2 separate regions of the Homo sapiens genome follow, and region 1 is linked to region 2. Evidence: fine-mapped expression QTL. A gene starts in region 2. The other region holds a variant in brackets. All regions are shown on one strand. Distances are between the middles of the regions. Region 1 holds the start of LOC107984087 (a long non-coding RNA gene). Region 2 holds the start of PHLDB2 (pleckstrin homology like domain family B member 2).

Evidence for each region.
Region 1: its variant is fine-mapped to the expression of PHLDB2 in spleen (GTEx, PIP 0.99).

Annotation. Positions count from the first base shown.
Region 1 is chr3:111,793,889-111,809,667 of GRCh38, reverse strand. It overlaps LOC107984087 (a long non-coding RNA gene), which reads left to right and starts at 11,073. Exons shown (of 4, transcript XR_001740848.2): 1 at 11,073-11,115; 2 at 15,062-15,197. LOC105374040 (a long non-coding RNA gene) reads left to right here. Exons shown (of 4, transcript XR_924333.4): 3 at 387-484; 4 at 5,220-10,490. It also overlaps a transcript of PHLDB2 not described here. The variant A/G (reference allele first, on the strand shown) is at 7,247.
Region 2 is chr3:111,850,723-111,866,501 of GRCh38, reverse strand. It overlaps PHLDB2 (pleckstrin homology like domain family B member 2), which reads right to left and starts at 7,237. Exons shown (of 18, transcript NM_001134438.2): 1 at 6,926-7,237. LOC105374040 (a long non-coding RNA gene) reads left to right here and starts at 5,686. Exons shown (of 4, transcript XR_924333.4): 1 at 5,686-5,842. RefSeq lists enhancers at 5,804-5,913, 6,244-6,828, 6,829-7,415 and a silencer at 6,720-6,779.

The DNA.
Region 1 (15,779 bases), 57 kb after region 2:
ATAGGTAAATCTGCCAGGCTTTGCCTTAGCAACAAAGAAAAGCAAACTTACTAAAGATATTTCAGGGTCAAAGACCTGATATACAGTGATAAGTTGGCATTAGATAAAAAGAATCCATTTTAAGAACTGAGGGAGCTAATAAGTATGTGGGTGTTTGTGGAGAAAAGAAGAGGAAATCAGGCTTGTGAGGCTGGGCAGTGGCCCACTGCTGGACTTCAGATAGACTTTTCAGATTACTGACATGCCATAGAACCACAGGCTTGGAGACAGCATTCTCATAAGGGAAGAGGTTGAGCATAAGGTCACCCAAAGGCAGAAGAAAATATTTATTTTACTATTTAGAGTTGTTTTCCTTTCTTTAAACAAACTCTCCATCAATTCCACAGCAAGAGCTTTCTTCTGGCACATCTGGTTTATGTGAATACATTAGTGAGTTTCCCAGGAAGCCGCAGCATCACACAAAGGCCCATGATCATTTCACCAGGTAATGATTAATGTCATGTTACAGTTTCACAATATCATAATTGAATAATCAATTAACTAAGGTTTTGTGAGTACTATGTGTGAAGAACAATAATTTATTTATGTGACTATTCCTCCTCGATGACAGCAGTCAGTTCCTTCTGGAAAGTATAGATTAAGCCATTGCATTTCTTGGTAAATAAATATACTAGTCAAAGACCAAGATATTATTTATGTGTATGTACTAATGACTTTAACAGAGATATAAACCCTTATTTTAGGAATTGTTTAGTACTAGTAGTAGAGTTCTAAATGGATGCTATATAAAGAATTTGCTCTTTATTATATTAGTTATGAGAATTACAACCAGTGAATCATAGTAACTGGAAAATACCTTAGGGTTATAAAAGGAAATCCATTAATTGTACAAATTAAATATTTGAAGACCAAAGAGGGCAGGAGACTTATCCAGGCCTCCTGAGTCTTTAGAGTTTTTAATTAGAGCACCAGTCCATGCAGATTGTATTTGTCTTCTTGAAGCTGTGACTCATGAGATATACATGTATTGCTTAAGAATACATGTTTACTCTTTCTGCACTACCTGAGTGACAGGATCATCCATGTCCCAGACCCCAGCACCACGCAGTATACCCATGTAACAAACCTGCATGTGTACCCTCTGAATCCAAAATAAAAGATGAAAAAAAAAAAAACCCAGAATATATGTTTAAACACCCAGCTCTGACCGAGGACTCAAAAGAAAAGTGGCAGCACAGGATGTGGAGGTGAAGGGCAACCTCCTTTTTCCGAGCAGACATAGCTAATGTCATTCATGCAAAGCCCTTATGTTTGATTGCACAAACATACAACACCATGTAGAAAAATAAGAAAAGATCATCTGTGGATAGAACATCTGGGTGGGTACAGCTAGTCTCTGTGGTTTGTCTCTTTCTAAGATGTCAGAGTGGCATACTCTAAAGACAGTTCACCCCACAATTTTGAACACATTCCCTAAGACCCAGAGAATCAAACTGTTAATGCTGCTGTGAGTTCTTTACAATGGTTTTACATTAATATTGCCAGGAGAAACTTTAAAATCACCAATGCCCCAGCCCCTTTCCAGACCGATGAAATCAGAATTTCTGGGCTGGGTCCCAGGCATTGGTAATTTTTAACACTCCCCAGGTGACTCTAATGTGCAGCCAGGCCTGAGAACTATTGAGTCACTCATAAAATTAGGCAAAAAAAAAAAAAAAAAACACCCAGCTTATTTATAAAATGGTCCTCTTATCAAAGAAATAAAGCAATGTTCAGTTAACTACATTTAGCAAATAATTCCCAATTTAGCTGGCACTGTCTTAAATCTGTGAGATTCATTCTCCTCCTCTTCCTATTCCTCTTCCTTCTCCTTATTCTCTTCTCCTTCTCCTTCTTCTTCTCCTTTTTTGAGACAGGGTCTCACTCTGTCGCCCAGGCTGTAGTGCAGTGGGTCCATCATAGCTCACTGCAGCCTTGAATTCCTAGGCTTGAGCAATCCTTCAGCCTCAGCTTCCTGAGTAGTCAGGACTACAAGTGGGACTACAGGACTACAGGCGTGTAAATTAAAAAAATCACGCGCCTGGCTATTTTTTTTAAATTTTTATTTTTTTGTAGAGATGGGGTCTTCCTATGTGGCCCAGGCCTCCTGGGCAAACTCCTGGCCCCAAGCAATCCTCCCAACTTGGCTTCCCAGAGTTGCTGGGATTACAGGTGTGTGCCACTATGCCTGGCAGGGATTCATGCTTCTTTTGAGATTTAAATAAGTCAATGTTTAAACCCTAATCTTCAGTTTCCAACATTTATGACTTTCCCTCTTTATGTTCTTTGTCTCAAGATGAACATTTGTACTTTAAGTGATTTTCTAGTCAGCAATTATCATTTATTAAATTCCTAATGTTTGCCTGTCTCTATGTTTGGTACTCTGTACACTTAATTTATTCCTCACAACAGAGCTATGCATTAGACATTATTATCCTCATTGTATATAAGGGAAAATTGAATCTCAGATAAGTTGAGTTGGATGGCTAGAAATAGCCATTCTGATCCCCTAAACCAGGTTTATTTTTTTCCTATTCTAGTATCCTGTATCTAGTATACTGTATCCTGACAATAGCATGGTGTCACAGCTAAGTCCTGGACTGAGAATCGGCAAATGTGTGCTCTGGACCTGCAACTAATGTCTCTTACAAGTCCCATAACTAGAACTTCTTCATCTTAAGAAAACAAAAAGGGGCTGGGCATGGTGGCTTATGCTTGTAATCCCAGCACTTTAGGAGGCCAAGGCAGGAAGGGTGCTTGAGCCTAGGAAGAAGTTCAAGACCAGCCTGGACAACACAGTGAAACCCCATTTCAAAAAAAAAGTTATTAAAAAAAAAAAGAAGGGCTAGGTGCAGTGGCTCATGCCTGTAATCCCAGCACTCTGGGAGGCCGAGGCAGGCGGATCACCTGAGGTCAGGAGTTCAAGACCAGCCTGGCCAGTGTGGTGAAACCCTGTCTCTACTAAAAATACAAAAATTAGCCAGGTGTGCTGGCTCGTGCCTATAGTCCCAGTTACTTGAGAGGCTGAAGGCACGAGAATTGCTTGAACCCGGGAAGCAGAGGTTGCAGTGAGCCAAGATTGAGCCACTGCACTCCAGCCTGGGTGACAGAGTGAGACTCCGTCTCAAAAAAAAGAAAAAAAAAAGAAGAAAAAAAAAGAAAAGATTCAAGAAGGCAAGAAAGAAGCCAGTCACAGAAGACTACATTTTGTATTATATAAAATTCCATTTATATGAAATTTCTAGAAAAGGCAAAACTATAGAGACAGAGAATTGGTTCGGTGGTTGGCTGGGGTGGGAGAGGGGATTGACTGCCACAGGTGTGAGGGAACTTTCTGGTGTGATGGGTATGTTTTAAACTGGACTGTGGTGCTGGTTGCATAATCATATATAGTCATCAAAAATTCTATAATTGTACACTTACAATGGGAGAATTTTATGATATGCAAATTATTCCTCAATAAGGCTGTTAAAAATGGTACTGGGACTTGCACTAGAAGATGACTGCTATAATGATTCTAGAGATACTAACTCTTTATGGCATTTTCACAGCAGATAACTTGAATTGTTGAATCTTTAACAACATTTTGACCTGTTTTTTTATGTACCCATTTAAGTATCCAATTGATAACTCTTGACCAATTCTCTGTCTCTATTGTTTTGCCTTTTCTAGAAATTTCATATAAATGGAATTTTATATAATACAAAATGTAGTCTTCTGTGACTGGCTTCTTTCTTGACTTCTTGTATCTTTTCTTTTTTCTTCTTCTTTTTTTTTTTTTTGCATACATCTATGCAACCACCATCACAATCAAGATATAAACATTTCCATCATCCCAAAATTTCCCTGTGTCCTTCCCAGTCAACACTCCCACTCACCACCCCTGGCCCCAGGCACCACTGACCTGCTTTCTGTCACTATAGATTAGATTTGTCTTTACTAGCATTCCATAAAAATGGAATCAGACAGTATGTATACTTTTGTGTCTGGCTTCTTTCACTAAGCTTGCTGTTTATGAGACCCATCCATGTTGTTGCATTTATCCAGTAATTTTTTTTCTTTTTTTTTGAGACGGAGTGTTGCTCTGTCGCCCAGGCTGGAGTGCAGCGGCGCAATCTCGGCTCACTGCAAGCTCCGCCTCCCAGGTTCGTGCCATTCTCCTGCCTCAGCCTCCCGAGTAGCTGGGACTACAGGCATGCGCCACCATGCCCAGCTAATTTTTTTGTATTTTTAGTAAAGACGGGGTTTCACCATGTTAGCCAGGATGGTCTCGAGCTCCTGACCTCGTGATCTGCCCGCCTCAGCCTCCCAAAGTGCTGGGATTACAGGCTTGAGCCACAGCGCCCGGCCCCAGTAATTTTTTTTATTGTTGAGTAGTATTAGCTTGTATGGATATATCATAATTTGTTCTTGGCTATAATGAACAAAGCTGCTATAAACATTTATGTACAAGTCTTTTGTGGACTTATGTTTCATCTCTCTTGGGTAAATTCCTATATCTAGGAGTAGACTTGTTGGGTAACAAGGCACACGTATGTTTAACGTGTTAAGAAATTGTCAAACTGTTCTCCAAAGTGACTGAGGTTGACACTTTCAAATTCTACATTCTTGCTAGCAGTGTATAAGACTTCTGGTTGCTCCACATCCTCCCCAGCACCTAGTATTGTTCTATTATTTTATTTTTCACATGAATAACTTTTTATTTTACCAAAAACTTGATATTGTTCTATTGTTATTTATGTCAATATTTTATTTCTCAGTGAAATTTATTACATAATTTTGAAGTTTTTCTCAAAATAAGAAGTGGCCCACTTTTTAGAAGCCCTGTGTGCAAATTAATTCTTACTGTTCAGCATCACAGTTATTTAAAAAGTCAAATAAACACTGCAGTTTAGCAAAGTTTTCCCCCCAAAATTTCAATGGTAAGTATTAGCTGTAATTTTAAATAAGAAATGAAAGTTTAATTGGGCAAAATCTGGACATCCACATGGAGTAAAGTAGAAACCTATTAGTCAAGTGATGTGGGACTAATTTTTTGAGGTTTAGCTCCATTATTACTGTACTTATGCTGCAGATAGTATATCTTATACTCTGCGTAGAAAACAATACATCAGTAGGTTGGGGCCTAGCATCATCATTTACTTTTTTGCATCTGAGGCTTCTTTCTTTATTTCTAACAGGTTGACCTGAACATCATTGGCTAAACATAGGAAATCAAGAAATTGTTAAAACTTCGCCAAAGTTTTCTACCTCTAATAGTTAAGAGATGATGAAGGGAAGACTCTGTTCTTCAGAAGAATTCAATAATGTCTTCTTTCACAGGCTTTAAAAGATTATCTCTTCAAAGATTCTTCTAACTTTTTGTTTGTTTATAGACCATGTGTTCTCAATAGGAACAATATTGTCCACCAAAGGGTGAAAATTGGTTCTTGGGGGGTTTAACATTTTCTTACTATTTTAATGTATAAAGCACAGATATACCTATATACAGTTCACAAACAACATAATGGTGTCTCTGTGGCATTAAATCTCATGGAGGAGAGGACGATCAGAAAAAATGTCTAAAAAGGCTTCTTTAGGGATGTGATACTGAACAAAAGTTTAGAAACTGAATTAGAGGACAGGAAAGGCACATAAAGAGTTTAAAGGGACTAATCAAACAGGACGTTTTCAACTGATTACATGAATTTGGTCTGAGACTGATTCCTCAGAATGCCCCCCACTCTCAAGATACCATTTCACCTGAAGTCATTAGCTTTGGAATAGAAAGGAACAAATCTACGCTTTGTTAAGAAATATTTGTAAATTGGAAATTTTCATTCTTTATCTCACTTTGTTTTAAAGCAACATCAGAGAAAAAAATTGTTATATCCATTTTTTATAGCTGAGGGAAGTAACGCTCAATGAGGTTAACACTTTCAAATTCTACAAAGAATACACAGTTTCTGAGTGTAATTAGTGAATGTAAGAACCTGAGTTTGTTTGATTTCAAAGCCCATGATTTCCTCCCACTCATGTGCTAGCCAGGGATTGCTGGTGGGTGAGATGGTGTTCCATTCTACTATCCTGAGTTCACTGAAAATTGACTCAAATGCCTGAGTCAGGAATTGATGTGTTCTCACAGCTCGAATTCTGGGAAGACTAGTGGTGGGGGTGGGGCTGTCACTAAGATGTCCAGGAGTTCTGCACGGGGTGGTGGGGGCACATTCTCCCGGGAAGTTTCAACTGGACTGGAGTTTACAGGAATCCAAGAGCTTTGGCTAGAACAGAACCAATCTCAGGATTGCAGAGAACCCTGTTAGTAGCAACCTTACATTCCATTCCATATTTGTCAGTGAGGGAGAGGCACTCTGATCCCCATCAGAAATTTGAAGAACCACATAAGTTTTGGCTAGCTGCCTGTTCCCTCTGCTTCACAGCTTAACGATGAAACTTTTGTTTGCTGTGTTCTTCCATCCTCTGCTCCCAAGTAGCAGATGCCAACCAAGGAATGACTGCTGATTTCAAAATTAGAGAGATGGCCATATAGACTATGAACATATAGATCATTTCTGCTTTTTCTTTTGTTTCTAGAGATTAGTATAAAACTTTTTGTACAACATCCCCTATACTCATTAAATCTGTGACATCCTTGTTGCTACCTGATATCATATATCTGCTTTATTTTATATTTCTGCTTTTCCTTTTCCAGTGACAGGTTGCCATTTTAAAGATGATTAATTATCTATCATTTGGGAGCAGGACCATAACCTTTAACTTTTCCTGACAGGACAAAAAACATGTGTTCACACCACCCACCCTTATTGATTCTCATGGTAAGGAAGAAGAGAGGATCATAAACTAGAAGTGAAAAAATGGAAGTTTTAGTGCTTTTTCTTTAAAAGAGAGAGAATGCATGATGCTTGCCTCACTCTGCTGTAACGAATGTAAGTTAAAACTAAAATACAGTTTAGAAAACTTTCACATATTACTCACAAGAACAAGCTATGAGTGTTGTTATTTTACTATTTGCTAAATGTATAGTACTAATGTCTCTTCTAAGGGACAAATATCAAGCATTTCACAAGAGGTTACACGTCATCTTGCTCTATGCTAGCATGGAAATAAATGAGAGTTGGGAAAACAGGAAATAAATATTCTAAGTTATCAGGGAATGCTGCCAAGGCATCATAGGAGTGTCATTAGTTATTTTGGTTTCTCAACCAAG[A/G]CCTGAGATACAAGGCTAGTGGGTGGTGTCTAGGACAACACAGAGAAAATGAGGAAGCTCTTGGAAAGTGCTCTCCCCTTGCTCTGTCTCCCCTTTATTCTTCACTCTGTAGGCCAGATCCTCTGGAGGCAGAATGCAGCCACCACTGTGTTTACACTTTGGTACAAGAGAGGTTTCTTGTATGTAAGCACAGTGCTCCATGGAGCCATAGAGATAGCTGGTGGCACTCTGCAGTTTTCTGTGCAGTAGCTTGATAGACTGGAGAAAGCCTGAACTAGGAGCCAAAGTTTTGATGTTAGATGCATAATCATCACAAGTAACACAAATCAATTTTTAGCAAGTTACTTAAATCTTTCTATCCTGGTTAATTTATTGTTTTACATTCTAAAAATTGAGATAGAATTCATATACTATAATATCCACCCTTTATAAAGTCTAGAATTTGATGATATTTGTGATTACATTCACAAAGTTGTGCAACCATCACTGCTATCTTATTCCAGAACATTGTCATCATTCCAAAACAAAACAAAACAAAACAAAACACCCATATCCATGAGCAGTCACTCCTTACTCTTCCCTCCTCCCAGTCCCCAGCAACCACTAATGTATGTTCTGTCTCTATAGACTTGACTATTCCACACATTTCATATAAATGTAATTATATGTTATGTGATCTCTTGTGTCTGTCTCCTTTCACTTAGCATAATATTTTCAAGGTTCATTCATGGTGTTACATGTATCAAAATTTTATTTCTTTTTATGGGCAATAATACTCAATTGTAGCTTATTGTTTAGTCACTCATTCATCTGGTCATCCATCCTTCACCTACTCTTCACTGAATACTTATTATGAACCAGCCTTGTCCTAGGCTCTTGGGACACATTTATTCATATTTGTGACATGAATGAATAAAGGCACAAATTTATTAACTATTATATAAAGATAAATATGAGATCTTCATATCACCTCAGTTAAAAATATTGGGTGAACAGATTGTTTATGAGCTTTTAAAATTTTGAGGTCTTTGTATCCAAAGGAGACCTGAGTTCTTGTTTAGTTTCTGTGTCTACTTACCCCTTGAAACTTAGATTAGAGGAGGGAGGGAGGCCTGCTTCATGAACCCCAGGACTGTGGGTTATTTCAATGTGGCCCTGTGCTCAGAGGGGCCTATGCTTGTTTTAACACTCTGTTGTGACTGTCTTGAAATTCTTAATAACTTTTGAACAAGGGGCCTTGTATTTCATTTTCCACTGGGCCCTGTAATTTATGTGGCCAGTTCTGAAGGGAGCAAATATTTATTAAGTGTCTACTCTGTATTGGCCATTGAATTTGACCCCACAGCTCATGTTGTTTAACAAGTCACATTTCTCTATTTTAAAAATGAGAATGTTACATTTAATATTATTTAAGGTCTCTTCTATGTCTAAATTTCACTAATTCTAAGTCTTGCAAAATGATCTATGAAGGCAATGTATTATACTTGTACCAGCTGATTCATCTTTTCAAGATTTATCTTAATTGGCATAACTTCTTAGAAATCTTCCTTGATTCTTTCCCCAGCCAAATTTAGTAAGCTTTCTTTTGTGTTCTCACACTCCCTCAGTGTTATTAACAGAGCTTTTTATAAAACTGGATTTTATGAAGTAAAAATAGTTTCTGTCTCTCTCATTGCATTGTATGTCCCCTTTAAATCAGGTACTGCATCTTAGTTAACGTGTAACTTGCAAAATGCTTCTTAAAACAAGCAGGATTAAAGAGTCCAATAGTAAAAATGAAAGTTCAGAAATGCCAGTTCATGACATTATTAGAGATGGGAAAATCTGAGGCAAACACATAGTCCACAACAAAGTCACTGGAATATAGAAACTAAAGATATACAGTGAGAAAAGAAATTAGGACATTTGCCCAAGTAAACTTAACTTAAAAGAACTATAGTTTTAAAATGATATATGCATAATAGTATAGGAATTTAATAAACAAAAAGTAATACAAAAGTAATACCTCTCCATAATTTTAAAATAATCAAAAGGCACAGAGGGTATAAAATAAAAATTTCTTTTCATGTAATTTCCCAGTCTCATTTTCCAAAGATATGCTCAATAAGAGTTTCTTGGCCAGGCATGTTGGCTCACGTCTGTAATCCCAGCACTTTGGGAAGCCGAGGCAGGCAGAAACTTGAGCCCACGAATTTAACACTAGCCGGGGAAACATGGCAAAACCCCATCTCTACAGAAAATTGCAAAAACTAGGTGGGCATGGTGGTGCATGCCTGTAGTCCTAGCTACTCAGAAGGTTGAAGTGGGAGGATTACCTGAGCCCAGGGAGGTTGAGTCTGCAGTGAGCCGTGATTGTGCCACCACACTCAAGCCTGGGTAACAGAGTAAGACTCTGTCTCAAAAAAAAAGTTTCTCGAGTATCCTCCTAGAAATGCTTTATGAGGAGTACATTTATACACTCTTGTTATTGCACAAATAGGATTCTATTTATATTTCTATATAGTTATTTTCCTTGCCTTTTACTTAGTAATATTTTTTAGACCTCCTCCCATATTGGTATCTATAGATCTCCCTAATTCATTTTCAGGAGTGCATAGTACTCTATGACATGTGTTGAACACAGTTAAATAAAGCAGTCCTTTCTGATGAATACATAACATTGTTTTCAGTTTCTGTAAATTATGGAAAACCACAATAGATATCTTCACATAGGAAGATATTCACAGTATAAATTTCCAGCAGTGAAATTGCTGGAAGTCTTTATAATTTGATTTTAAGAAAAACTTAATTCAGTACCCAACCTGATGTCTTTGAGACAATTTCACATTTACTTGTTTGTTCTTCTCCCTCACCTTCCTTTAGAATTTCTTTTTTCTGATTGGGATGACATATTTCTAAAGTATTTCTAGCTTTCAAAAAAATAATTTATAGAAAATCAGTCTATATTTTTAAAGACCAATTGAAGCTGTCTACCTCACCAATGTGAAGAACTGAAGTAGAATTTAATTTTCTTTTCTAATACTTTTTTCTAGTATTAAATTCAAAGACTACTATTCCTCTTTTATTTACAGCAGTCTGTGTTCAAATTGTGCTGACACCATGATAGATTTCAGAGTGATTTTTTTGGCTATGTGGGCCTCTCCCATTATAATAAGAGTACCAGCTTCTTAATGCTTGTGATATGATTTGGCTGTGTCCCCACCCAAATCTCATCTTGAATTTTAGTTCCCATAATCCCTAGGTGTCATGGGAGGGACCCAGTGGGAAGTAATGGAATCACGGGGGTGGTTTCCCCCATGCTATTCTTGTGATAGTGAGTTCTCACAAGGTCCAATGGTTTTATAAGGGGCTTCCTGCTTCACTTGGCTCTTATTTTTCTCCTTGCTGCCACCATGTGAAGAAGGATGTGTTTGCTTCCCCTTCTGCCATGATTGTAAGTTTCCTAGGGCCTCCCTAGCCATGCTGAACTGTGAGTCAATCAAACCTCTTTCTTTCATAAATCACCCAGTCTTGGGTATGTCTTTATTAGCAGCATGAGAGTGGACTCATACAGCCTGTCTCCATGTTAGCTCACCTTCCTGGCCCTCATATGAGGTCTAAACAACACTCCTTTGCATAGTAGAAATTCAGCATATATTTTGAAATTGATTGTATTGGAAACATCAAAGATGCCAGATCCTAGAATTGTTCAGATTAAAGATAAAATAACATTTTATTTTATTTTATTTTATTTTATTTTTATTAGAGACAGGCTCCGGCCCTGTCACCCAGCCTTGAGGACAGTGGCATGATCATAGCTCACTGCAGCCTTGGCCTCCTGGGCTCAAGTGATCCTCCTGCCTCAGCCTCCCAAAGTGTTGGGATTACAGGTATGATACACTGCACCTGACTGAAAATATTTTAAATAAATGCTTTAATAATTTCATTGCAGTTTTGTGGCCCAGGTAATTTTCACTTAATCTTACTTGATTACAGAAAGCAGTATGAAAAGTAAACACAAGGAAGCCTAGAACATACCAAAATTCTCCTATACAGATGATTTGAGTTTTAAATATTTTTAGGTCTTATTTCCTTGCTTTCTTTAGAATGATGGTAAAAATTGACTTTTTAAACATCTTTTGAAAAATTAGAGCACTCTCAGATTTAGAATGTTCCCTGATTCTTTTTCTTCTTCTTTTTTTAAGATAGAAAATTTGGGAGTAAATTATAAAGGCCAAGGTCTTAGAAGTTCACCTTGTTTTCTATTCCTCTACAATTGTTTTTCAAATTTTTCAAATTTTAATTTTTTGAGATAGGGTCTCACTGTGTCACCCAGGATGGAGTGCAGTGGCATGATTTTGGCTCACTGCAGCCTCAACCTCCTGAGCTTAAAGGATCTTCCCACCTCAGCCTCCCAGGTAGCTGGGACTACTAGCATGCACCATTACACTTAGCTAATGTTCTTATGTTTTTATAGAGATGGGTGTCTCACTATATCGCCAAGGCTGGCCTCAAACTCATGGGCTCAAGCGATCCTTCCACAGTGGCTTCCCACAGGGCTGTGATTACAGTCGCAAACCACTGCACCCTACCCTATTTCTCTACAATTGAGTAATCACAATTGCGTAGCTTTCGGCAAATCACTTCATTTCTCTGAGGCTTGGTTGTTCTGTTTTCTGCAAAGTTAAGAGCATCTTAAATATCTATCCAGTTCTAAAATGGTAGGACATCAAAGTGGGAGTGATGGTGGAGAAGGGTTGTGAAAGTTGCTTGTAAACATATTTAGCAGATTTACAGAAGTCAAACAAAGCAATGAAAAAGTTCCACATATAGGAGGAGTTTAAAAAGACACAGATGGTAGCAAAAATAGAACCAAGGGATTTTTGCCTTTGTCTCATGACAGACTGTCTTACGGAATCCTTACACATGGATTGAATTGCTTTCAAGTAAGGCAGTCAACAAGAATATGAAGGAAAAATTCTGTGGCAATGGCTGGGCCTCTAGTTATTCAGTGTCTGAGATAAGAATTAGGAAAGTGAGATGGTCTATAACCCACAATAACTACTCTCTGTGTGTGTATGTGTGTGTGTGTGTCTGCCTAAATAGAACTTAAACCATTCAAAGTTCCACATCTTTCTTTTTCATTTGTTAATTTCTTTAGCATCTGCTATTCATTAGGCACTGGTGATATGTGGTCAGTGGGGGAAACAGATATTGAGTCAATAATCACGTCAACACATAGATAATGACATATTGTGGCAATGCTAAGAATGACAGTAAATATAATGAGAAACTAAAGCAGGGTCACTCATTTAGATTATGTAATCAATGAAAGCCTTCTTTGAGGAGATCACATTTAGCTAAGACATGAGGCATGACCAGAAGGTAGGCAGGAAAAGAAGATTTTAGGTAAAAGGGTAGACTAATCCTGAGCTAGAAAAGGGTTAGAGGAAGTTTAAAAACAAACAAAACCAGTCATGTCAATAACCTAGAGAAGAGCAATAGGGAATAACACTAGAAGGCTTATAGGCCTTGTAAATCTTGATAAGAATTTTACATTTTATTATTGTATATCTTACTATTTGAGGATGTTACACAATCTGATTTGTGTTTTTAAAATCTCCCTCTTGGGCCAGGCACAGTGGCTCATGCTTGTAATCCCAGCCCTTTGCGGGGTCAAGGCGGGTCAGGAGTTTTAGAACTGCCTGGCTAACATGGCAAGACCCTGTCTCAGCTAAAAATACCAAAAATTAGCCAGATGCATGCCTGTAATCCCAGCTACTCAGGTGACTGAGGCACAAAAATCGCTTGAATCCAGGAGGCAGAAGTTGCAGTGAGCCAAGATCATGCCACTGCACTTCAGCATGGACAACAGAGTGAGAGTCTGTCTCAAAAACAATAAAAAATAAAATAAAATCTCCTACTGGCTATTCTGTGGAGAATCTGTTAGAAGCGAACAAATGGGGATTCAGAGATTGGTTTAAGGAGATATAGAGAATTACCAGAATTAGGAAAGGGATAACATCAGGATGATAGCAGCTTGAACTAGGTAACAGCAAAGGAGCTGGAGAAAAGTGGAGAGATTTTGGCCATATTTTGAGGGCAGAATCAACAAGACAGTGTCTTAACACTTCTGGTATTTTGTTTGTTTCTTTTTAGGTTTCATTTACTTTGTCTTCACTACATCTAGTAAAAATGAAAAGGCGTTTTTCTATTCCTCTCTCCCTCTAAAGAAAACAGGTCTTGGCTGGATGTGGTGGCTCATGCCTGTAATCCCAGCACTTTGGGAAGCCGAGTCAGGCAGACACCTGAGGTCAGGAGTTCGAGACCAGGCTGGCTGACATGGTGAAACCTCGTTTCTACTAAAAATACACAAAATTAGCCCGGGCGTGGTGGCGGGCGCCTGTAATCCCAGCTACTCAGGAGGCTGAGGCAGGAGAGTCGCTTGAACTCAGAGGGCGGAGGTTGCAGTCAGCCGAGATCGCGCCACTGCACTCCAGCCTGGGCAACAGAGTGAGACTCAAAACAAATAAACAAACAAAACAAAAATTAGATGGGTGGGGTGGTGCACACACCTATAATCCCAACTGCTGGGGAGGCTGAGGCAGGAAAATCGCTTGATCCCGGGAAGCGGAGGTTGCAGTGAGCCTAGATCACATCATTGCACTCCAGCCTGGGTGACGGAGCAAGACTCCGTCTCAAAAACAAAAACCAAAAAAAACCTACCCAGGTCTTTACTTATGAAAACTAGGTAAACTGAGGCATGTTGAATGATTATCCAAAAGGAGGAGGAGCTCCAAGGATTAAAGGAGGCAGTGTGGGTGGGAAAGAGAGTGGGATTTCCCAAGACTTCAAGATGTATGGAAGTGAGATTATTTATCAAAAGCCTACTTACTTTCAAATAAATATTGTAGGGACCTAGTTCTGCTCCCATGTGACTCACTGGAGATGGCAAGATTGTTGATGGAGGCAGCATTGTGAAGGACTGTGTGGAGACTCTTAATGAAAGATCCTCAGCTCAGGCTTACCACAGAGAGAACAGAAGCAACTGCATTCAAATGGACCATAGGTCTTGGACAATGTGCACTTTGGTGACGACTGAAATTTCCAGTTAGGGTACATCCTCTCCTTGGCCATCTCCACTCTTGTATCATTTTTGGGAGGAAAAGGAGCTCTTAAACATTACTGAAATGCAGTTTCCCATGACTGAAGGGTGGAGACCTAAGAATACCTATCTGATTTCTTAAAATAAAGAAGTGCAACTCTGAGGGTTGAGGAACTTCTTTCATTTACATACCTTTTAATTATGGCACCTTAAACAAAAACTAGACATTAGTTGTTACCACTCATGATGATAGTGGTGCAGAACTGGTAGATTTGAGAATATTTTGCAGTCAAATGCTCAACCACTGAGCTATACCCCCGATTTTAGAATATTTTGGAAATTTTGAGACAATGCTCCTGGAGTGAACATAAAAACAGCTGGAGAGCATGTGATCCTCTTCACATCTGAAAGCCATTAAAGACAACAGTGGCAGAGGCATTCCAGATGGTTCCACCCCTCAGCTACATGCTGTAGGCCCTGCTTTGCATGCTAGCTCCAATACCACACCAAAGTGAGCAGGCCTCAAGCAAAGATGAGAATGGCAAGGGTTGATCAAATGCCTTACCATTCATGTATCAGGGACTGAAGTTCCACAGCTCAGGTGTGTATCATGGCCCAGGTGGATCCAATCCAATCACTTTAGCCTTATAAAGCAATTTAGGACACAGTGAAATCCATACTCTTATACATTTTTGTGACAATATGAATTGTTTAACCTTTCTTGAGGGCAGATCTAGTGGTATCTACAAATAATCTTCAGGAAGCAAGATGGCCAAATAGCACCCTCCAGCAATTGTCCCCACTGTAGGAACACCAAATTTGAACAACTATCCACAAAAGAAAGCATCTATAAGACCCCAAAATCAGGTGAGTGATCACAGTACATGGTTTTAACTTCATATCACTGAAAGAGGCACTGAAGAAGATAGGAAAGACTGTCTTGAATTGCCAACACCACCCCTCCTCTATTCCGCAGCGGCAGCCACATGGCCCAGAGAAAGAATCTGCATGTTGGGGGAGAGAGGGTGCAGTGACTGCGGGACTTTGCATTGGAACTCAGTGCTGCCTTTCACGGTGGAAAGTAAAGCAGGGCAGAAATCGGCAAGTGTCCATGGAGGGAGCATTTAGACCAGCCCTAGTCAGAGGGGAATCATGCATCCCAGCGACTGGGTTCTGGAAAGCATCGCCACTCTGGACTAAAGTGGTCTGGGGTCCTAAATAAACTTGAAAGGCAGTCTAGGCCACAAGGACTGCAATTCCTTGGCAAGTCCCAGTGCTGTACTTGCCAGTAGACTTGGGGTACACACAACCTAGTGAGACACCAGCTGGGATGACAAGGTAGTGCTTGAGTTACCCCTCCCCCAACTCCAGGCAGCACGGCTCTCAGCTCTGATTCCTTTCTTCTGCTTGAGGAAGGATAGGGGAGACTAAAGAGGACTTTATCTTGAA
Region 2 (15,779 bases):
TTTTTCCAAAGTAACATTCCCCAGACCTAAATACTTGCTGGAATTCCCATTCCCTAACCCAAGATTTATGAACTGGGAATAGTCAGGGTACAAACAGGCTCACAAGAGGTGGAACAAACACAGGTCAACCACATCTTCCATGTTTGTAATGCATTTCGCTTTACATCACAAATTGAGTACATGAGGCCGGGCTCGGTGGCTCATGCCTGTAATTCCAGCACTCTGTGATGCTGAGGTGGGCAGATCACCAAAGGTCAGGAGTCTGAGACCACCCTGGCCAATATGGCGAAACCCCATCACTATTAAAGTACAGAAATTAGCTGGGTGTGGTGGTGCATGCCTGTAATCCCAGCTACTCGGGAGGCTGAGGCAGGATAATCACTTGAACCTGGGAGGCCGAGGTTGCAGTGAGCTGGATCGCACCACTGTACTCCAGCCTGGGTGACAGAGCAACTCTGTCTCCAAAAAAAAAAAAAAAAAAAAAAAATGAGTGGGTGGGGTAGGTTTCTAAAATATTGTAAAGTAAAAATAATAATTATGATAATATCATATCTTCATTACTTAGCAGCTGATTGTGCAGAATGAGTATTATAAAACACTTAATTTTTCCCTTCCATGCTATCTACCTTTTGACCACTTACTGCTTGAAAGAAGGGAAATAACTTGAACAAGTCAAGATAAACAATTGACTAAGTTTAATTTAATTTTAATCAATGCTTTTTTTTTAATAACTCTGGCCAAAAGATCTAATAAAGGAAATGGTTACGTTAGGATGTTATTTTTATTACAGTGGCCAATCTAGTAGAAAGAACACTGGATAGGCTGCCAGGGAAGCAAGTCAGAAGATCCATCTTAGTTCTGGTTCTGCTAACAGAACTAAGATCTGGAGCACGTCAATTCGCCTGTCTTCATTTTGTTTCAACAGGAGTTTCTCCATACTCAACATGGTGAGAGTGAACTACATGTTCTTTCTGCTCCAACTTTCTGGACTCCCACAGATACTGGTTAAATAACACAGGAGTGCTCATTACATAATGCAGGAAATGGAAATGACCACAGAACAGAAATAGTTTTAGTGATAAGGTGGCAGCTACCTAATTGGGAAAAGATTTCACCGGACTGTTGCCCATGACATTCCAAAGGCATGGTAAATTGTTTTAGCATAACATAGTGGGAAAAAGGCCTGGTCAGAGTTATGGTAATGTAATATAATATGGGTATTTGATTGAGCATGATGTATAAGAAAGGTTTTGTCTGCATTCCCATGGCTTGCAGTTTCCTTAATAAATCTTAAGCTGTTTTTGAAAAGCTACTTCTGCAATGACGTAAGCAGTGAGGCAGCCAGACATCACTTCTCAATCCCCTCTGAATATCTCTTGGCTGTGCGGCACTATTCACACTGGGTCTGCACTGGTCAAAAGAATGTAGGAGCTGGGTTTCTTTTGCCTTTATCTTTCCTTGTTTTAGCAGTAGGGTGGTCAAGAAAGAAATCTTGGAAAACTCTTGTAATCTTTAACTTTTTTGCTATTTCATAGGCTAGTTCCATGAACATACTGCCATCTAGGGCAGTCACATGCAATGTGCAAACAAAACATTCTAAGATGATCAACACCAATTCCCACTGAATTAGCAGCAAGTCTCAGAAAAAGCTGACCTGGCTTAAGGCCATCGATAAACAGTGGCATACACAATATTTTCTTTCCTTTTACTTTGTAAAGTAAGGAAAAGCACTTCATCTAATAAAATCAACCTAACACACTAAACAAGTATCTCCTGTAAAAATCCTCTCAAAAACTTTTTGACTAACCCTGTTACTCTATATCTTATTAATCTGTTTCTTTGTATAGCAATTACCTACAACCTCTAGTTTCCCACACAACAGTAAAATGATTTTTACACTTGGGTTTCTCTTATTGACCACTAGCTGCTATAGACAACTATCTTGCCTTTAAAGCAGATACAGCACAAAGCTCCTTTTCTGCAATGTCTAAGAAACATCCTTAAGCGTCATGAAAACAACTGTAAGCAAATTAACTCCCAGAAGGTTCAAATTCCTGGATGAACATAGAGAGAAGTTCTGCCTTGCTAAATGTTTACTTTGAAGGGATTTGAAAATCTGAGCTAACAATTTTGGTTTCATTTATTTTTAAAAGACAAGTTACTTTAATCAAATCCCAATAAATATTTCTAGCCAACAGTTATTTTTTTAAAAACTACTCCTGTCTCCTCTCCCATCATCTGAAAAACAGTAACAAGAATGGCCAGATGAAAGATGATAATGAAAAGACTGCTACACCCCTTTTGCATAGTACCTGCGGGGGGGCAGATCCCTTAAAAGGGCTATCACTCTTGAGTCATTTCTAAATATATCACTATGTACTTGGCTTTGAGGTGCACCCTTTGGCTAGTTGTCAAAATGATAAGAAACTATCTTAACACTTTTCAGAGGTTTTATGTCTCCCACCAAAGGCATACTAAAAACTTTCCTATATGGCCAGAACCTGTCAGATTTGAGTATTAGATAAAATAACTACCACAGGAGGACAGCTTGGCACCCAGAACTAGAATCTATAATCATGAGCCTAATGGCTAACCATAGCAATGTAAACAGGAGAGTATACATGTTTGTAATTAATCAGGCTATGGTGTACAACTTTTCTGATAATCATAAACTCATTAAGGTAACTCCTTTCTATAAACAGCCATTCACAAATACCATGCTTTTTAAACTCTCCCAAGTAATTAACAATAACTTTCTTTACTATCATTTTCTTTCCCATTAGGTAAACACATGGAATGGTAGAGACTGTGGGTGCAGGAGAAAGTACAATAGAACAGGAGGCTTGCAGATTCTGCCGCTATCTAACCCAGTTAGTTGGTTGGAGGGAAAAGATTCAGATAAGAGGATTTCTAAGGTTCCTTTTACCCCCATAGTTATTTTGTTCTACATGCTGAAAGAATAGCTAAGCTTGAATTGTCTTCTGATTCTTAATCCTAGTTCTATGCAATTGAATTTATATTAGATATCCCCTCATCAGCTTATGAATTTCTCCCACAATTTCCCCAACACTTGCTCATTTCCATATATGCCAGGTGTCTTTTTTTCTTCCATACTCAGGAGGCCTCTGTAATTCTCCCTTCTGTCCAAGCCAGCCCTATCCATTCATGTACTCTACTCTTAACCGATAAGGCAGGGAGGAACAGAAAATCTCAAATGTTCTGTTTTGTACCTGGATTCAAAAGCAACATCTGCTATGTCTGTGGAACCATCTGTTGCCTACTTTGCCATGGAAAGGACAGTACAGGCATCAGAAGTGGAGTGTCACAGGTCATATAATGGAATTACCCCTTTCTGGGACTGGGGCACCCAGGCACGTGCCCCACAGTCTCTATGGCTAATGCCACCCCTCCCCCATCGAAGCATTTATTTATTTTCTCACAGGGAATGGTGCTTTGAAACTTTTACACAAGGTCAGGTCCAGTGTGTTTTGTTTTTTGTTCCCATTTGCCTGAATCTCTATTTTAAAATTTTTAACTCCTGGGTTGTACCTAGAACTTTGTCTGCCCGCCCTTAGCTCGCTTGAGACCTTATGAGTCCTAAAGCTCTGAGTGTCTCAGTTTTTTACATCTATAAAAAGAAGGGGTAGAAATTAAGTGATCTCTGAGGCTCCCTTGTGCTCTAATGCTCCCAAATCCCATGACTTTAATCCATCTCAAAGTTGTCAATGAACACAAGTTCCTCGACCTCTATGGTATATTAAGACTCTAAATGGCAAGGACAAAAGAATCTGCTGCATACAAAACGGCTTCTATGATAAGGGTCTCTTGTTTAACACAGTTAAACAAGTTTCTTGAGGATCCAAATCAGATTAAGATGCCTAATCTTGTTAACCTACTCCCCCAGGCAATACTGTAGTGCAGGGTTTGGGGCTGCATAATTGTTTTTGTGTCCCGTGCATGGCAGGGTGCTTAACCGCATCCCAGGCCTCTACCCACTATATGGCAGTAGCACTCTCCTCCTGTCAGTTGCTACAACCAAAAATACGTTGCCAGTATCCTCTGGGGGCCAAAACCCCTCTCCCAGTGAAAACCACAGCTCTAATGTATGTCAGGACTTTAAGATAAAGCACATCACTTAGGTGTTTTTGTTTCAAAAGAGTGACATTTACACAATCAACAATTGGTACACCAAGACTTTACAGATAGATTCATAAGGCACAGGTACTCCACCTAGAAAATGTACAAAGCCACTGTCACTCTAAGCCATCCACAGCACCATAGCACTGCCTCCCTGCTAAGGGTTGAAAATCAGGATATAAAGCCATAACGTTAACTACTCCTTTAAAAATATTTAAAAGGAGACCGGGTGTGGTGGCTCATGCCTGTAATCCCAGTACTTTGGGAGGCCAAGGCAGGTGGATCACCTGAGGTTAAGAGTTTGAGACCAGCCTGACCAACATGGCAAAATCCTGTCACTACTAAAAATAGAAAAATTAGCCAGGTGTGGTGGCAGGCGCCTGTAATCCCAGCTACTCGGGAGGCTGAGGCAGGAAAATGGCTTGAACCAAGGAGGCAGAAGTTGTAGTGAGCCGAGGTAACTTCTCCAATGAACTCGAGAGTCAACCCTTGCTTATAGATCTCAAAATGGAGCTTTGAAGAAAATAGGGAAAACCAGAGATTGGTTAATCACTTTGGCTTATTTTTTCCTCTCTTGCATACACAACAAACACACATGGTAAATAAAACGTTTCTGGAAAGGTTGCTAACGAGTTTCAGCTTGGTCACAGTTATTGAACGGAGGAGTAAGCAAGCTCTCAGTCCAATTTCCCAAGTATCTTTTCCTCCCCTTTTCAAACAGGGATCCAGGCGACACTCGTGGCAGACGATCTCAACACCAAAAGAACAGCAGCTGCCAGCTGCATAAAACAGATTGAGGCCTGCAAATTGACTGAAATGATGACTACTCTTAACCAGACATCTCATTTTTCCACTTCTGACAGGCTGAGATCTGCAAACCTCTGGGTCTCAAGAGATGAAGGCTACATTAGCCAACTAAGACGACAAACTCAACTCTTCCTTGTCATTAAATAATTTGCCAGTTATAAATGGTTTGGTAACTTTACAGAATTTAAGTACATGTAATGTTTAAATTTCCCCATTAAATGTAAGAGGCAAAGAAAATCCTTTTAAATAACTAAGCAGAGGATATGAAAGGGGAGCCAAGAATAGACAGAACTGTTACTTTTCAAAGAACCTTCGCTCTTTATTCAAACAAATATTTACACAATTGAAGGCAACGGCAAGAGAGATATAGCCATTCTGTTAAAATAGTGGGCAACTCTAACGGTTTATTTATCCCAAATCCGACAGTTCTGTTGCTAACCTACCAGGAACCAAGAATTCAAGTGTTCACAGGGCAAAAGTTTAACCTTCTGAAACTGTGGACCTCATTTAGATCTCTCCCAGCCGAATTCAAACGTTAGAATCCCAGAGACATATCTCGAACGCCCAAATTAAACCAAACTAGGAAGCTTAAAATTACACGTCCAATACTTGAAAACCTACATCTGTAACTTACACGTTCATATTACGAAGGGAAATGTGGCTGACAAATATTTACACTAAAAAGACTCCACATTTTTATGCCTCGTCTAGTTACACTCCCAGCTGTGCCTGGCTATGACTAGTTGTGCATTCTAGAGCTCTTTAGAGCTACTTCAGAGTTGCAGGATAAAGATTTCTAGGGAAGAGGGCAGGGCCAGGCGCCCGGAGGATTTCCAGCCACGGGTAGTTTACCGAGAGAAAAAGCTGCGGGCGTCGCTCCCTCTTTTACATAAGAAAGGTAAGTGAGGAACCGCGAAGCAGTTTGACTTCTCAAGCTCTTTCAAACAGGAAACCCCAACCCTGGGAGGGACAGCCTGTCAGCCTTTTAATTTCCTGGTGGTGGCGGGAGTTAGCCAGGTCCTCGGCGCTTTAATAAGTGATGACTGCTAGGGCTAAGTTATTAAGCGAACCAGCAAACGATTCAGCTGCGCCTCCGCCGCGCAGGGAGCTGGAGAAACAGAGGGTTAAAATACTCCCCAAGCCTTCCAGCTGCTATCTCTAGGGGTGCCGAGACGGCCACACTGTAAACTTTCAGTGGGGGGTCAAAGGCCAAATCGAAATCAGCCGCTTTTGGCGGTTAAAGCTCGTAGGTTCACTCTTGAAAGAAAGTGGAACTAGAAGCGCAGCTAGCCAAATATTTGCGGGGAGGGAGTCTTCTCTGAATCCCGCGCCCTACACCATCCAGCAGCGGACCTTCTCTTTCTCAGGGAGCTATCCCAAGGATCCCCATCCCTCTCTCCATGTGCATTCCAGAGTTGCTGGAAAAAGTTGCCCCCAGTTCCCCCACATTCTGCCTGTTTTCTACAATCACTCTGGAAGCATCTTCCCTACCAGACACTCCCTCCCCGGGATCCCCTCAACCGGAGATCTACCCAGCCCCCCGAGAGTCATGCACAACGGGGTTCGCCACCCCCACCCACCCAGCTGCGCAGCCTGGGCACTGCCGACCCCAGCCCGGGCTTTTGTCCCTACAGCCTGTAAAGAAGCAAAGAAACTCTGTGTCCCCGGAGCCCACTCACCGTCTCATCTTTCCTCCAAACCGCCGCTCTACGCTGGCGCCGCCGCCCTAGCGCCTAGCCTTTGCCCCCGCCCACCCTGTCTCCCTCCGTGAGCCCGCCGGCCCCTCCTGACTCGCGGTGAGCAGTCAGCGCGCCCCTCCTCGGCCCGGGCAGCCACTGCCTCCTCTCCGCCCCCAACCCTCCGCAGCGCAACCGGCGGCAACCAACTCGGCCGCGGGGGAGGCAGCGTCCCCGGGACGCACTCCTGGCACACGGAGTCGGCACCACCCCCTCCTCCCGGGCGACCACCGCCGCCTCCTCACCTGGCCATTGGTGCAGCCCGTTCCCGGCGGCGAGAGAAGGCAGGCGCGCTCCTTGCGCCACGCCACACCGTCGGGCCCCCGTCGGGTCCCCCTCGGGCCGCAATGGTGGGCTCCGCGCGGCTGGGTCCGGCACTCTTGACCCCCTTTGTAACCACCGCGGCGGGCACCCAGGGAGTTCGAGCAACGAAGTTGGTGACCTGCCCCGCTCCCAGGCAGTTTGCTGTTGGGGCTTTCACGGCTGCTGGAAGGGCATGGCTGTTTGCCCCATCACTGGGCGCCAGCTTCTCAAAGCTACGTTCGCAGCAACGCAGTAGGGACTTTCGTGGCAGGCTTTTTTTAAGAGCTGAAAGAAGGGCGGGAGGGTTTACGTCCTAGGGTGATGATTTCCTCACCAGACAGCGAAGTATCTATTGGGAAACTCCAGGTGACCGCACCTCCTTCCGACAGTTCGCCCCGGGGCAAGTTTACCAGCTGCGTCAGAAAGCAGGTTTGCAAAATCCTTGGAGAACGGCCTGAGCTAAGGACTGGGGTCAGGAGGGTTTTAAACTCATTCTGATTTTCTTGCAATCATATCTCTTGAAAGTTTTTATATTTTCCCCAATATTTTTCTGAGTTGCTATATCCAATGAAAACAATGCTGATGTAGAGGTCCACCAGCCAATGCTTTATTGGAAGTCAACGAATGAGACCGAGGGTGGCCCATAATCAATCTCGGCACGCGGGAATGTGAACCTCTTCCAAGGTCTGGGCGAGTCCCTAGAGTTACGCAGATGAAGGACATTGGCCCTCGAGAATCTCACACCAGCAAAGAAGAGCACAACGAAGCGCAAACTACTTATGATCATTGTGGCTTTGGGCAAGTTGTTGTAGCTCCCAGCAACAATTTCTTCACCTGGAGTGCAGCAATAAATGATACTGGTGCTGCAGGGCAGCTAATAAGCTTCTGAATAATATATGCAAAGTACTTGGCACCATGAGCAGAACTCAGTATACCGTCACTGAAGAAATAGCTTATTTAATGATTACACTTTTCATATGTGCAAGTAAAAGTTTGACTTTTAGGGAGAGCCTCACCTACGGAATGTCTTTTTTAAATTTCTTTTTTAATTATACTTTAAGTTCTGGGATACATGTGCAGAACGTGCAGGTTTGTTACACAGGTATACATGTGCCATGGTGGTTTGCAGCACCCATCAACCCTTCATCTAGGTTTTAAGCTCCGCATGCATTAGTTATTTGTCCTAATGCTCTCCCTCCCCTTGTCCCCCACCCCCCAACAGGCCTCAGGGTGTGATGTTCCCCTCCCTGGGTCCATATGTTCTCATTGTTCAACTCCCACTTATGATGAGAACATGCAGTGTTTGGTTTTCTGTTCCTGTGTTAGTTTGCTGAGAATGATGGTTTCCAGCATCATCCACGTCCCTGCAAAGGACATGAATTCATTCTTTTTTATGGCTGCATGGTATTCCATGGTGTATATGTGCCACATTTTCTTCATCCAGTCTATCATTGATGGGCACTTGGGTTGGTTCCAAGTCTTTGTTATTGTGAACAGTGCTGCAATAAACATACGTTTGTATGTGTCTTTATAGTAGAATGATTTATAATTCTTTGGGTATATACCCAGTAATGGGATTGCTGGGTCAAATGGTATTTCTAGTTCTAGATCCCTGAGGAATCGCCACACTGTCTTCCACAATGGTTGAACTAACTTATACTCCCACCAACAGTGTAAAAGCGTTCCCATTTCTCCACATTCTCTGCAGCGTCTGTTATTTCCTGACTTTTTAATGATTGCCATTCTAACTGGCGTGAGATGGTATCTCGTTGTGGTTTTGATTTGCATTTCTGTAATGACTAGTGATGATGAGCTTTTTTTCATATGTTTGTTAGGAATGCCGGGTTTTTTAGAGGAATTCTTTTCCCTGTCCTGAGTTTTTGCCCTGCAGAAGCATACATACACTGATCAATCCAACAGTTAAACAGTTAAGTGCTCCAGCAATGTTCTTTTCTCACCCACGTCATCTCTTTCCTCCTCTTTTTTGGATCATCCCCATAAACATACAATCATTTTATTTCCATTACCTTGGAATTTTTTTTTCTTTTCTTTTCTTTTTTTTTTTTTTGAGACAGGGCCTCACTTTGTCACCCAGGTTGGAGTGCAATGGCACAGTCATAGCTCACTGCAGCCTTAACCTCCTGGGCTCAAGTGATCCTCCCACTTCAGCCTCCTGAATAGCTGGGACCACAGGTGCAGACCACCATGCCCAGCTAATATTGAATTTTTTGCAGAGATGGGGTTTCACCACATTGCCCAGACTGTTCTTGAACTCCTGGGCTCAAGCGATCTGTCTGCCTCCGCCACCCTAAGTGTTGGGATGACAGGTGTGAGCCACTGTGCCCAGCCTCCTACTTCCCCTTTATCACTCACTTAGCCCCTGCCACAGTGGCCTCGTAGACTAGATTCCTAGGTAAATCCGTTCTATCTCAGGGCCTTTGTTCTAATTGCCCTCTCTGCCTATAATTCCCTCCTCCCAAGTATCTGCATGGTTCACTCCCTCACTTCCTTCAAGACCCTGTTCAATGTCACCGTGTTGCTCAGGCCTGCTCTGACCACTCTACTTAAAAGTTTAAAATGTGTTTTCCATACTACTTAAATTTACTTTTTGACAAAGTCACCACATTCTACTATATTGTAAAATGTACTTTTTAAATTATGTTTATTGTCTGTCTCTCCTCACTAGAATGTAAGGCAGGCAGGCAGAGAGTTTTGCCTGTTCTCTCCAGTGCTATATCCCTAGTGTGCCTACAAGGATACCGGACATGTAAATGGTGCTCAAGAATAAATGATGGCTTTGACCCAAAGCACTGTGTTGCAAACATTTCCTTGCCTCGAGCAATGCCAGAAATACACTTGACTACACAGACATCTTAGAGACAACCTTTCTCCCTTCAGGTCTAAGGAGAATGTGCACCAACACAGCACATTTAGAATGGCCATAATTAGATTGCCAATATTTATGTCTAAGAAAAAAATAGCTAAATTTATTGAGAGCAATAATTACTATTGTATACGTATCCGGTATTCTTCCAAATATAGGACAATATTAGTTGATGCGGTGAGAGTTACTGTTTGTTACTACTCCCATTTTATAAGTAAAAAAGGAATCACAGAGAAGTCAGTTGTCACTCAGGTAATAAGTTGGTAGAGGCAGAATTTGAGCACTTGTTCTTGAGTTCATTGTCTTTAATGCTACCTTCTACCTCTTTTCTAAGTATGAATGTTACTAGGGGATATTTCTGTATAATGAATAATTCCAAATTACTAGACAAAAAGTAATCCTCACTGGCCTCCCTTCACTGCCTTGTTTTATCTGCTAGCATCTCTATCTCTTAGGATAGCCAAGCTCCTAGAAGGCAAAGGGAGTCATTTTATTCATATTTGTATGAATCATACTCCAAGACTTATATATGGAAGGGACTCAAAAAGTAGTCATTGAATGTGACTTTTTCAAGTGACTAAACCCAGCAAAGTTTCCCATTCCTGATGAGTTAGAGTGGTTTTCAATAGCTTTCATAAGGCCATAGCAGCCTGAAGATAGACGAGACCACCCTGAAGGTGCAAGTCTTAAATTAGATAAATTCAGTCCAGGCTCAATGGCTCATGCCTGTAATCCCAACACCTTGGGAGCCGAGGTAGCAGGATTGCTTGAGATTAGAAGTTCCAGAGCAGCCTGGCCAACATGGCAAAACCCGTCTCTACTAAAAATACAAAAATATTAGCCGGGCATGGTGGTGCACCATCTGTAGTCCCAGCTACTCAGGAGGCTGAGGTGGGAGAATCACCTGAGAATTCGAGGCTGGGTGATCCATGATCGCACCATTGCACTCCAGCCTGGGTGGCAGAGTGAGACCTTGTCGCCAAAAAAAAAAAAAAAAAAAAAAAAGACAAATGCAGACCTCAACATCTATAGAAAGCACTCAATAAAGTGCAACTGTTATTGTTATTATTATATTACCAGACTTTCTTTTAGTAATGGTGATGGAAAGAAAGAAGAAAGAAAGGAAAGAAAAGAAGGAAGGAAGCAAAGAAGGGAGGAAGGAAGGAAGGAAAAAGAGGGAAGCGCGGGAGGGGGAGAGAGAGAAAGAAAGAAAGGAAGGAAGGAAGGAAGAAAGAGAGAGTCTTTCTACCTTTTCTATTTCCTGGGTTCTTTATAATAAAGTTTTCTGTTTAATCACAGACCAGAGTCCTGCCTGCGCTCTGCCATTCCTTATCACTAGAGATATTGTGTTGTAAACTAAACAGCAGACCTTTCTTGTTTGCCTCTCCAGGATCTGTAGTGGTTACAGTCCCTGATCTTACTTTCCTGTGTCCTTCACCCTCTCAGGTGGGGAACCTTAAAGTGTTGCACAGTGTTGAGGCTAAAGCAACTCTATCTTGGATGCTAATCTGCCATGCTGACTTTTTTTTTTCTTTTTACCCTAATTCCATGGAAGATTACCTGTTGACTTCTGATTAACCCGAGTTCTGGGAATTACTCTAAGATTTGTACTTTATCTACTGATACCTTAAATCCTGCCCCTGGGTCAAAACAACCTTGACCATAAATCCTGCCCATGGGCAGATTCACAGAGCATTCTTGCCTCTCCCCAAGGGGTCGACTTCAATTCTCCTACACATTCTTTTCCTTTAGTTTATGTGTCTTGACTCTGGGAGTGACAGCGTGGAGATGCACCATCTTTTTTCACAGCCACTGGGGACATGGCTTCTGTTCATAAGTCTCTATTAAATGTTTCTTTCTGAGAAACTGGACTTGTCAGCCTCTTTCTTTGGCTTTTCAGCTTCTGTGGTCTTTGGGAGTAGGTTTGTACATACCTGCTCACTTTGAAACACATACAGTGATATTATGAATTATTTATGTTATTCCATTTGTAATTATTTTTGCTATTGTTCTCTTTTATTAGAAAAGATCGGTTGGATTTGATTAACTTTTTATGTCCTGAATCTGTATATTTGCTCCTTTCTCTGCAATGATAGCCTAACAAATCTTTGTAGCTATTAACTCATTTCAATCTTACTGCAGTTTAACTCATGGAACAATTGTTTGTGCTGAAGTTCGCTTTAATATTATGATGATTTAATGAATCAAGAAGTTTCTACTTGCAAAGTGCAGTGGAAAAATCATTGACTGTGAAGTAAGGCAGAACTGGGTTTTAAGCCCTGATTCAGCCCCTTTGCTAGCTAATATGGTTTGGCTCTGTGTCCCAAACCAAATCTCACCTGGAATTGTAATTCTCATAATCCCCAAGTGTCAAGGGTGGGACCAGGTGGAGGTAATTGGATCTTGGGGGCAGTTTCCCCCATGCTGTTCTCATGATAGTGAGTTCTCATGAGATCTGATGGTTTTGTAAGTGTCTGGCATTTCCCCTTCTTGCATTCATTCTGTCCTGCTGCCCTGTGAAGAAAGTGTCTGCTTCTCCTTTGCCTTTTGCCATGATTGTAAGCTTCCTGAGGCCTCCCCAGCAATGTGAAACTGTGAGTCAATTAAACCTCTTTCCTTTATAAGTTACCCAGTCTCAGGTATTTCTTTATAGGAGTGTGAGAACGGACTAATACAATAGCCAAGTAATTTGAGTGCATTATTTATCTTCACTGAGAAGCAAACTTCTATTCTGAAAAGTAAGAACTATTTTTTTTTTTTTGGAGATGGAGTCTTGCTCTTGTTGCTCAGGCTGGAGTGCAATGGCACGATCTTGGCTCACAACCTCTGCCTACTGGGTTTAAGCGATTCTCCTGCTTCAGCCTCTGGAGTAGCTGGGATTACAGGCATGCACCACCATGCCTAGCTAATTTTGTATTTTTAGAAGAGATGGGATTTCACCATGTTGGTCAGGCTGGTCTTGAACTCTTGACCTCAGTTGATCCACCCACCTCGGCCTTCCAAAGTGCTGGGATTACAGGTGTGAGCCACCGCACCTGGCTGAACTCACATTTTATGAGCCAGTGTGTTAATGTAGGTACCATTCCTTGCACAGAGGACAGACAGCACAAAAAGAACACCCAGCAGAGTAGTTTCCAACCACGTTTGCCTTTCTGGAACTATTGATAATGATGTTGACCATTGAGTTATACACTGACTGTCCTATATAAGTTCAGTTCCAATTTACACACTCTTTTTAGTACTTAGATAAATTGTCTCTCTAAAAAATGAATGTACTTTCATTTCTTAGAAAAGTCATCTTCATCTATTTTCACATTGGATCTGCAACTGTTGTTAAGGGAAACTATGTAACCCACTGTTTCTCTTTGTATCCTTGTTGCCAGGAAGCCCAGAGTCAAGCTTACCATTAAATTTTTGTGTAACGGTAATAAAGACTTTGCTTTCCTCTCCTTTTTAAAATGTTGATGTATTTTTATTCCAATAACCTTATTGAATATTTGGTTTTTACTATACATTCTCTAATATATATTTAAATAGATAAAGTATAAATAACATATTAATCAAATTAATACCAGAATGTTAACCAAAACTAAAGTGAAAATAACTTTTTAACCTCCTAGGGGCATAAAAAGGGAAACACCTAATTTTTGTCTCCTCAAGTTTAATGATTATCCCCATGTGCTGGTTTATCTTTAAACAATTACAAGGTAGGTTCTCTAATTATGAGAAAAATGTAAATCTATTTGGAACATCTGATTAATTTCTGCATTAAACGTTCTCCTTCTGCCCTACCCCCAATCTTTTCTGTGAGTCTGTATTGTAATCAGGCAGGAAAAGGATGGTGTGTGTGTATGTGTGTGTGTGTGTGTGTGTGTGTGTGTCTTTTAGATTAACCTATCCCAGCTGTGTTATCTGGCTCACTTTTCTTATCACTTGAGGACCCTGAATTGGTCTACTTTGCCTGCGTAGTGGGCTTAAAACAAGGAGTTTCTCTGTATCTTATCTGCTTATCATGGAAAAAAGAAACCAACACCTTAACAGCAGTATTCCTCGATACTGAAGAGAACTCAGCTTCTCTTCTCTCTGTTGGTTTTCTTTGTTTTTCCTTTCATCTGACTTTCATCATCCCTCCAGTTATACCATACCTTGATTTCAATTTGTCCTTAATGTTATACATAAAGATAATTATATTATGTATAAAGATAATTATACATAAGGATTATTATAATATATAATCCTATGTATAATATTAATTTATGTATATATAATATATGTGTATTATATATGATCTTTACATATAACATAATTGTATATATAATATATATTTTACATATATATGGAGAGAGAGAGAGCGAGAGAGAGAGGGAGAATGCCACCTTGGGCATCTACCCAATTTGGATAGATGTCCAAATTGATGTGTCAGATATACACAGACTTCAGCACACGGGAGAATTCTGACAACTGAGAGCAGGGGCCAGGATTCAGAACATGAGGAATGTTAAAGGCAAATTTACGAAGCACCTACTCTGTTTTATACTGCCTAGCATATAACTGTAATATGATAATGTAATATATACTAAAAAACAATGATACAGAAGAGTTCAGGTGAAGGGGTATTTGTGTCCTATGAGTCCAACAGGGAAGACAACATATGTGAGTTTCATATTGAAAAAAAAAAGGTTGAGGGGCCTTCTAGGCAGAGGAAAGACCATGAGCAATGTAGGAGGACAGTAAAGCCAAGGCAGATTTGGGAAAGAGTGAGTAATACAGCCGCCTGAGCTGGGGAGGGAGGAGTAGGAGATAAGATCTAGGGTGCTGGGGCCAGATTTGAGGAAAGGGGAAAGATGGGGCTTTGAATTTTAGGCTTCGCATCGAATACCATTTTAATTATGTCATTTCCTTACTCTAAACTTGCACTGGCTTCTTGCTGCGGGACAACAGGAAGAGCCAGCGGCTATGTAGGAAGTGGAACAACATGATTATATAGGCATAGGGTGAAAAAGAAATATGAGCTCCAGCCACAACATTTAAAGACTTTAATAAAGCCGCACTCTACTTCCTGTATTAAACAAGGTGTCAGTCTCAAGTCGAGGCTGCTCAACTGAGAACTGCGTATTCATTAGGGCCACAATTAAGATATTAAATCTCTCCATCCACTCCTGACTGCCCTTTTCCTTTTTCAGAGTTATGATTACTCTGTAGTCACAGATCCTAAAATGCTCACAGAAATACACATGAGCAGGCCCATTTTGGCTGTTGGGTCACTGATGGACTAGAAATTCAGTGACAACATTCCAATTAACTGGCTGTGTCTGCAGGGGCTCAGAGCTACTTGCCAGACCATTTTTAATTTTCCACTTGATGGGGGCAATGTCATTGCTTCTCTCAGGAGAATCGCAAAGAACACTAGTAAAAACCTTTTTTTTTTTTTTTTTTTTTTAAGACAGAATCTCGCTCTGTCACCCAGGCTGGAGTGCAGTGGCGTGATCTCGGCTCACTGCAAGCTCTGCCTCATGGGTTCATGCCATTCTCCTGCCTCAGCCTCCCGAGTAGCTGGGACTACAGGTCACCACCACCACACCCAGCTAATTTTTTGTATTTTTAGTAGAGACGGGGTTTCACTGTGTTAGCCAGGTTGGTCTCCATCTCCTGACCTCGTGATCTGCCTGACTCGGCCTCCCAAAGTGCTGGGATTACAGGCGTGAGCCACCACGCCTGGCCAAAAACATTATTTTATAGCACTCAACTCTGACTGGAGATTTATGTTAGTGCTCAATAAATTCTAAATGGTTGTTTGAAGCATTTATTTCTGAGATACAGATAGTGATGTTATGACTAGTATAGTTCTTTTATTTATTTATGTATTGACTTTAAAGACAATGTCTTGTTCTCTTGCCCAGGCTGGAGTATAG